Linked DNA regions of Homo sapiens: region 1 is reported to be linked to region 2. Evidence: microRNA targets listed by miRTarBase, many of them from high-throughput screens and not tested one by one. Region 2 holds a microRNA gene; the other region holds the end of a gene's coding sequence.
What was found. The annotated mature microRNA hsa-miR-504-5p reads AGACCCUGGUCUGCACUCUAUC and lies in region 2 at 2,173-2,194, shown strand. An mRNA with a match to its seed (bases 2 to 7 or 8) in the 3' UTR can be bound and repressed. Matches are read on the target gene's strand: a 7mer-m8 pairs with bases 2 to 8, a 7mer-A1 pairs with bases 2 to 7 and ends in A, and an 8mer does both.

Region 1 (3,169 bases), not on the chromosome of region 2:
TGTATCTCTATCCCTATCTATCTATCTATCTATCTATCTATCTATCTATATCTATCGATCTATCATCTATCTATCCATCTTATCTATCTCATCTATCTATTATTTTATCTATCATCTACTTTATCTATCTAATCTACATTTATCTGTCTGTCTGTCCATCCAGCCATCCATCCAGTCATCCTTCTTGCAGGCATGAAGCTATGGTCTGTTCAGCCTGCATCCATTTAAAGGCTAGGCATAGGTGGGGTCCTAGAGGGCAGGTCAAGCGGGAAGGGGGAACCGTAAGATTAGGGAAGCTTCGTTCTTCTTCCTGCTATGGAGAAGGGGGTTGAGGTGGTGAAGAGGGGCAGCAGAAGGCCTGGGAGCCTCATCTGTATGGTGCAGGGATGTGGAGGACAGGCGATAGGAAGAAAGAGGCTCTGAAAAGATGATGACAACTCCATGTCACTGCTTTTAAAGCTTTTAGCAGACCACAGCCGGCCCCCAGGTGCTCAGCCTGCCTTTCTACTCTTCAGCTGTTTCCCCTGCACATGCACACTTTGGCCCTGGAATTCCCTCTTCCATCTCTGCCTGGTGAGATGCTTTTGCCTTTGAAGGTCTAATTTGACCCTTACCTCCTGTAAGGCTTCCTTAAGCCTCAAAAACACCAAGTGTCCCTCATCCCTGCTACTACAGCATGTTATTTCTCAGAGGGGCAATGTTCATCATAAACAAACACAGAGGCATCAACGTCGTCATCTTGCCCCATGTGGCCTGCCACACCCTACCACTCCATACGTCTCAACAGGTGGGTGAGGGGCTGCCTCGCGCTCACACATGCCTCTCTTACAGCACACACAGTGGTCTTCTCTGACTGCTTCTGTGCGCAGGGGATGAGGGAAGAAGGGGAGGCGACAGGAGTAGGTGATGACAAAACTGGTTTTTACAAAGCAATGCTGTTTGTTTGTACCAAAATATTTAATCAATATGCTGTTAAAATAAAACCAACAAAAGAAACAGTAATACAATTTTACTGGTTTATATTTCAATTCATAAAGTTGACACACTGAAACTACCTTAGCACAATGTCCACACACCTAGCATTAGATAGGCTTACAGCTATTTTGGTAACTGAACAAGAAAGACACAGAAAGCAGCAAAGGGGATGGTTGGTGGGGAGGGGGTTGCCACTTGTTACCTCCCTTATTACAGATAACCTCAGCAAGCGTTAGTACAGCCAATAAGAAAAAGAGCTACAAAACAACCCGAGTGTCTTTATATACAAAACCAGTGCCTCTTGTAAGCAGCCGCCTCAACACTGAACGCAGAAAAGAGGACAAAACCATCTGCGTGTCAGCCTGTCAGCATATCACTATATAAATTAAAAGTCAAAGTTTTTTTTTTTTTTAAAGGTGCTAAAATCCATTCCATAGCTTTGAAGTGAGAACTTACAGCCCATCTGAACAGTGAGGTTTGTACCCAGGCATACTCTGAGGAGGGCCCAAAGGCCCAGCCCATCTGGGAGGGACAGGCCCGGAGGATGGAGACCTCGCAGCATGTGCACCCTGCGCAGACATTTACAGACACGCAACTCAGTCTTTCTCACTTGGACAACCTGTTGTGCAAAAACACTAGGAATCTTGAAGTGAGGGAGCTCTGTCCACAGCTCCCGTAATGGCAGGGAGGAGAGCAGAGCCCAATGAACCTTGAGTGAAATTAAGTGCTCGAATAACCACATAATTAAATTGTGCAGATCAGCAGTCCTAGTCTGGAATTTAAACACTGTCAACGGGGCATATTGGGAAAGATATTTATATATATATATACATACACACACACACACACACACACACACACACACAAACACATTAAGCAAAATAAGATTTGTCCATGTTATAATCCAGTCTCACAGTCAAGTCACCCACCCCAGCCTTTTGAAGTCATTTGGCAGCTAATGCTAAAAAGTAACAGGAACTATGAGAGTTGCATAGAATTGATCAGAAACATGAATAATGCCAAACCCAAAACCTGCACCATACAGTTTAACAGAACCAGGTGGCTTCAGATGCAACTATGAAACCCTCCTATTTAAAACAAAGTGCTTCTCCATGTCTACCTGGGGGACCTTCTGCTGGCATTGAAGCAGAAAAGAATTATTTGAATTTCTGATCCCTTGCCCCACCCCCACTATATATATATATATATATATATATATATATATATATATATATATATATGTATATTAAAAAAAAAAGGTTTAGAAAAAAAATCAACAGACTGAAGGATCCCCTAACTCTGATCATGTAAACTCAGCCTTTAGGCTGGGTGAGGTGTTGACGTACACGGGGAAGAGGCCTGGGAGGTCACACTGAGGAGTGATTTCTAGAGTGTCCAGAGCGTCGGCTGAGCTAGCAGGCCTGTTAGTATCAGTAGTCTTACCCCAGAGGTTGCCTGCTTCACAAGCTCTGGTCCAGTGACCTACCAACATGCGTCTATGGATCTGACTTAGGTACATTCTGGTCCTGGGACAAGTCACAGAATCACACATCTGGCCAAAGAAGGCAACAAAAGGTGTCGTGTTTTCTGAAGGTGTCGGGAGGCGGCAGCTGCTCTCAGCAAGTCTCTTTCCCTTGAACCCCGGTTGCTGTCTTTATGGAGCTCAGTGTTCGGTTAAACCACGTCTTCTTGGCTGCCTGCACCTCATTGAGGGCAAGCCCTAAATGGTGTTCCAAGTCCTGCAAGAGGAACAGTGTGCATGAGGATGCTGGGCTTGGTGTCAATGACACTGGCTCCCCAGAGGAGAACCAAGACAAGAATGCAGTCTATTTACTCTGGAGAGGCCTCGGGGAATTCCCCCAGTCTCCAACTGGCATAGAAATGCCTGAAATGCCTAAAGATTTGGGAGCTTTTAGTTAAGATCTAATTTCTTGCCTGGTCTATTTATTAAAACAGTCTTCTACTTGCTATGTCTCCCTCTTCTGTCCACCTAATGCACACCAGGCAGACAGGTAATGCTCTATTTCTGGTGACATCATTTCATTTTGGCAAAAATCTTTAAACTCCCTAGCATGGCATTTGAAATGCTTCGCAATCTGGATCCACACACTCTCTTCCAGCCTTAGCACCACCTCCATCCCCTACTGCAAGGAAAGAACTCCTGAGGGTCCTTCCTGGGCAGCCACTCTCCTCC
Region 2 (3,169 bases):
AACTTCCCACCCACTCATTTCTTTCCTTTCTGCTTCTGACACTTCAGCCTTTGAAACAGTTTCCCATGAGCAATACTGAGATTCAGACTATTTAGATCTAAAGGAAAAAATGCAAGCTCTTCTACAGCTTGTATCTAGCACCTGGAAACGTCTTAGAAGAAGTGCTAAAATGTAAATAATGCTGTTATTTGTTATGCACATAGGAGAAATCCTAAAGGTATTTTAGGGAAGAGATGGAATCCAGAGATATTAAGAACAAGGTGTGGGGGCCAGGGGAGAAGGGGAGAGGCAGAAGGATCCTATCCACATTATTAAAGTGAAATATTTCCAGTATACTCTTATCAACTGACATGTAGACTGCATGCCGCTTTCATGCAAAGGTATCACATTTCAAACTTAGCATTTAAAAGAAGCCAGACAAGAAAGGAAAAGAGACAGTTATTTGTTGAAAAAAGTCTGGGTTTAGCATCAGGCACAGGGGTTATTGGTAGTTGTCTGAAGTACACTGGAGCCTTGTAACATTGTTTTGTGCCATGTATTGCCAGCCTGATACCACTGGAGTACATCCTCTGTCTAGTTTTCCAGAACTCACTACAATAACTGTAGGATTTTTCCATCCTTTATGAAATTGCATCAGTATTGTGAAGGGCCTTAAAAGCCATTCAGTTCAACAACCATCTCCCAAAAGAAAAGTTCCTCTTCTTTTTCCATTTATTTTATCTCTTCCCAAAGCCATGGGGACCTAGATACATCAATTATCCTTTGTCCTGTACCTTCACTACCTCCTGGACTACTACCTTTTTTCCACTGGCATACAGATCATTTCAAGACTTCTCATCCTAAAAAGTCCCTCCTAAGTTTCTCTTTCAGACTGTCTCTTTCCTTTGATAGGCAAGAGCTTTCTTCATTTTCTCGCCTATTTTTAAATTATTCAGCTTCACCTTTGCTTTTATTTTCTCATCTAATTCTTAATTATTCAGCCCTCCGCATTCTATCTTCTGCCCACATTGCCATCCATGAACTCCTCCTGCTAATGTCGCTAGTGACTGCCAACTAAAATCCATTTCTCCCTTCAGTCCTTACCTTATTTCTCCTTTCTACAGCACTTGACCAGGTTGGTCAACTTTTTCATTGAAACCATCTCTTCTGTGGGCTTTCACAACACTGCTTTTTCTCTGTTCTACACCATCACTATTTTTCTTTTAATTTTTACACTTCCCTCGTCTTTTCTGAAATGTTTGATGTCCTCCCCACCCCCAGTTTCCAGCCTCAGTAGTTGTCTTGTATTCTGCTTGTGTTCTCTAGATTATTAAATGTATTCTTGTGGTTTCAGTTACCATCCATATGCAGACACCTTTCATCTTGAGAGCCAGGCTTATATATACAAATGGCTGCTGCACATTAACCTATCACTAATGGCTCTTTAAACTCAAAATAACCAACAATGGAGTCATTGTCTCTATCTCTGAAATAGAACACACTACCCTCCCCCACTTCTTCCCCTTTTTACCCTGTGGCAACAACCTTTTGCTATCCTGATTTTAAGCAGGCTGCAGCATCATAATAAATGATACATAATATCTGCCTTTAAAATGCCTGTAGTGGTTAAGAGGGAGGGCTCTGACATTACATGGATTTGAAACACAATTCAAATGCTTATAAGGTTTATGATTTGGGGCAAAGGAATTATTAATCCATCTGTCCTTTAGTTTCCTCATCTATAAAATGGAGGTAATAGTAGTATAGACCTCATAGGGTTCTTAAGAGGATTAAATGGAATGATAATACATGCACAGCATTTTACAGTGTTAAGTTCATTAAGTTAACAAATGCTTCATATTATTTGCCGTTACAGTCCATATAATAACATGCTGCCTTCAGGCCAATATATATAAGCCTATAATTCTTGGAAGACTATGGAAATCCTATCATATATTAAATTGTCATTTTTTTTAAGACTAAGAAAAATTTATGTAAAGTCCAAAAGTACAGCTGTTTACAGGGGACGAACTGATCCACAAGGCCACAGTCTACCCTCATCAGTTAGTGTCCATCACTGAAGTGGAATAACTCAAAAGGAAAAGGTAACTCAACGAGCCATCCATTTCCCACATAGAATCACAACAGAAGACAGAAAATATGGAGTGGAATGTTGAATCAGCTGCTGTTGGGAGACCCTGGTCTGCACTCTATCTGTATTCTTACTGAAGGGAGTGCAGGGCAGGGTTTCCCATACAGAGGGCACAGACTACCACCGTATGGCAAATGTTGACTGGAACTCAACTTCAAAGCCATTTCACCTGGAATCTTACCCCACCACCCCAATGCTTCATGAAAATTCAACTGATCCTCTTCTATGAAGAAACTCAATCCTGATAAGTCTCTTTAGTAGTTATTGAAATGTCTTTGTAACTCTCTTATAGTCAGGTTCAGTAAGAATGTTAAGTTTCTAATTGAGCTTTTCTTTCTGAACAGTTATTTTGTGTATGTTTATTTTCTGTTTACCAATGTAATATATGTTCTTTGCAGAAAAATTGGAAAATACAAAAAGGTATCTACAAAGTCCCCCAACCAAGAGAAAACCAATATTAATGTTCTGTTATAGATCCTTGTAGTGGCTAGCTGGAATTCGTGTATATCTCTCTCTCTCTGTCTTTGTCTTTCTTTCTCTCTCTCTCTCTATATATATACATATATTCCAAATATACATTTTTATGTAATATATATGTATATTATATATGTATACATATATTCCAAATATACATATATATCTTCATGTAATATATACGTATTTTATATATATGTATAAATACATAATATACATATATAACCTAATATATGATATAGCATAATATATGTATACACATATATGTGTACATATATAAAATACATATATATTACATAAAGATATATATGTACATTTGGAATAACTATGCATACCATGTTTCAAACCTGCTGTTTACTCGTTATTATGACTATTCCTCTATATATTAAAATATTATTCTTAATCTACATTTTAGTGGTTGAATAGTAATAATCTATTTAGTTTGTTCTCTGTTTATTTGTTTTTGTTTTTGGGAACAAGGAACTGTTCACACCTAAATGTGTACAACCTTTATGTCTAGATCAGGCACTTGAATTCTTAAAAAAGTGTTAGGAAATGGAATAA

Region 1: the mRNA of RABGAP1 is a reported target of hsa-miR-504-5p. The part of its 3' UTR that is shown has no 7-base or 8-base seed match.

The regions. Positions count from the first base shown.
Region 1 is chr9:123,102,636-123,105,804 of GRCh38, reverse strand. It overlaps RABGAP1 (RAB GTPase activating protein 1), which reads right to left. Exons shown (of 26, transcript NM_012197.4): 26 at 939-2,714. The coding sequence ends at 2,592. Among named protein-coding and RNA genes, the nearest start is that of MIR600, 7.4 kb to the left of the region's middle. RefSeq lists a silencer at 2,941-3,169.
Region 2 is chrX:138,666,785-138,669,953 of GRCh38, reverse strand. MIR504 (microRNA 504) reads left to right here and starts at 2,161; the gene lies at 2,161-2,243. The region is part of intron 3 of FGF13 (fibroblast growth factor 13); the gene reads left to right.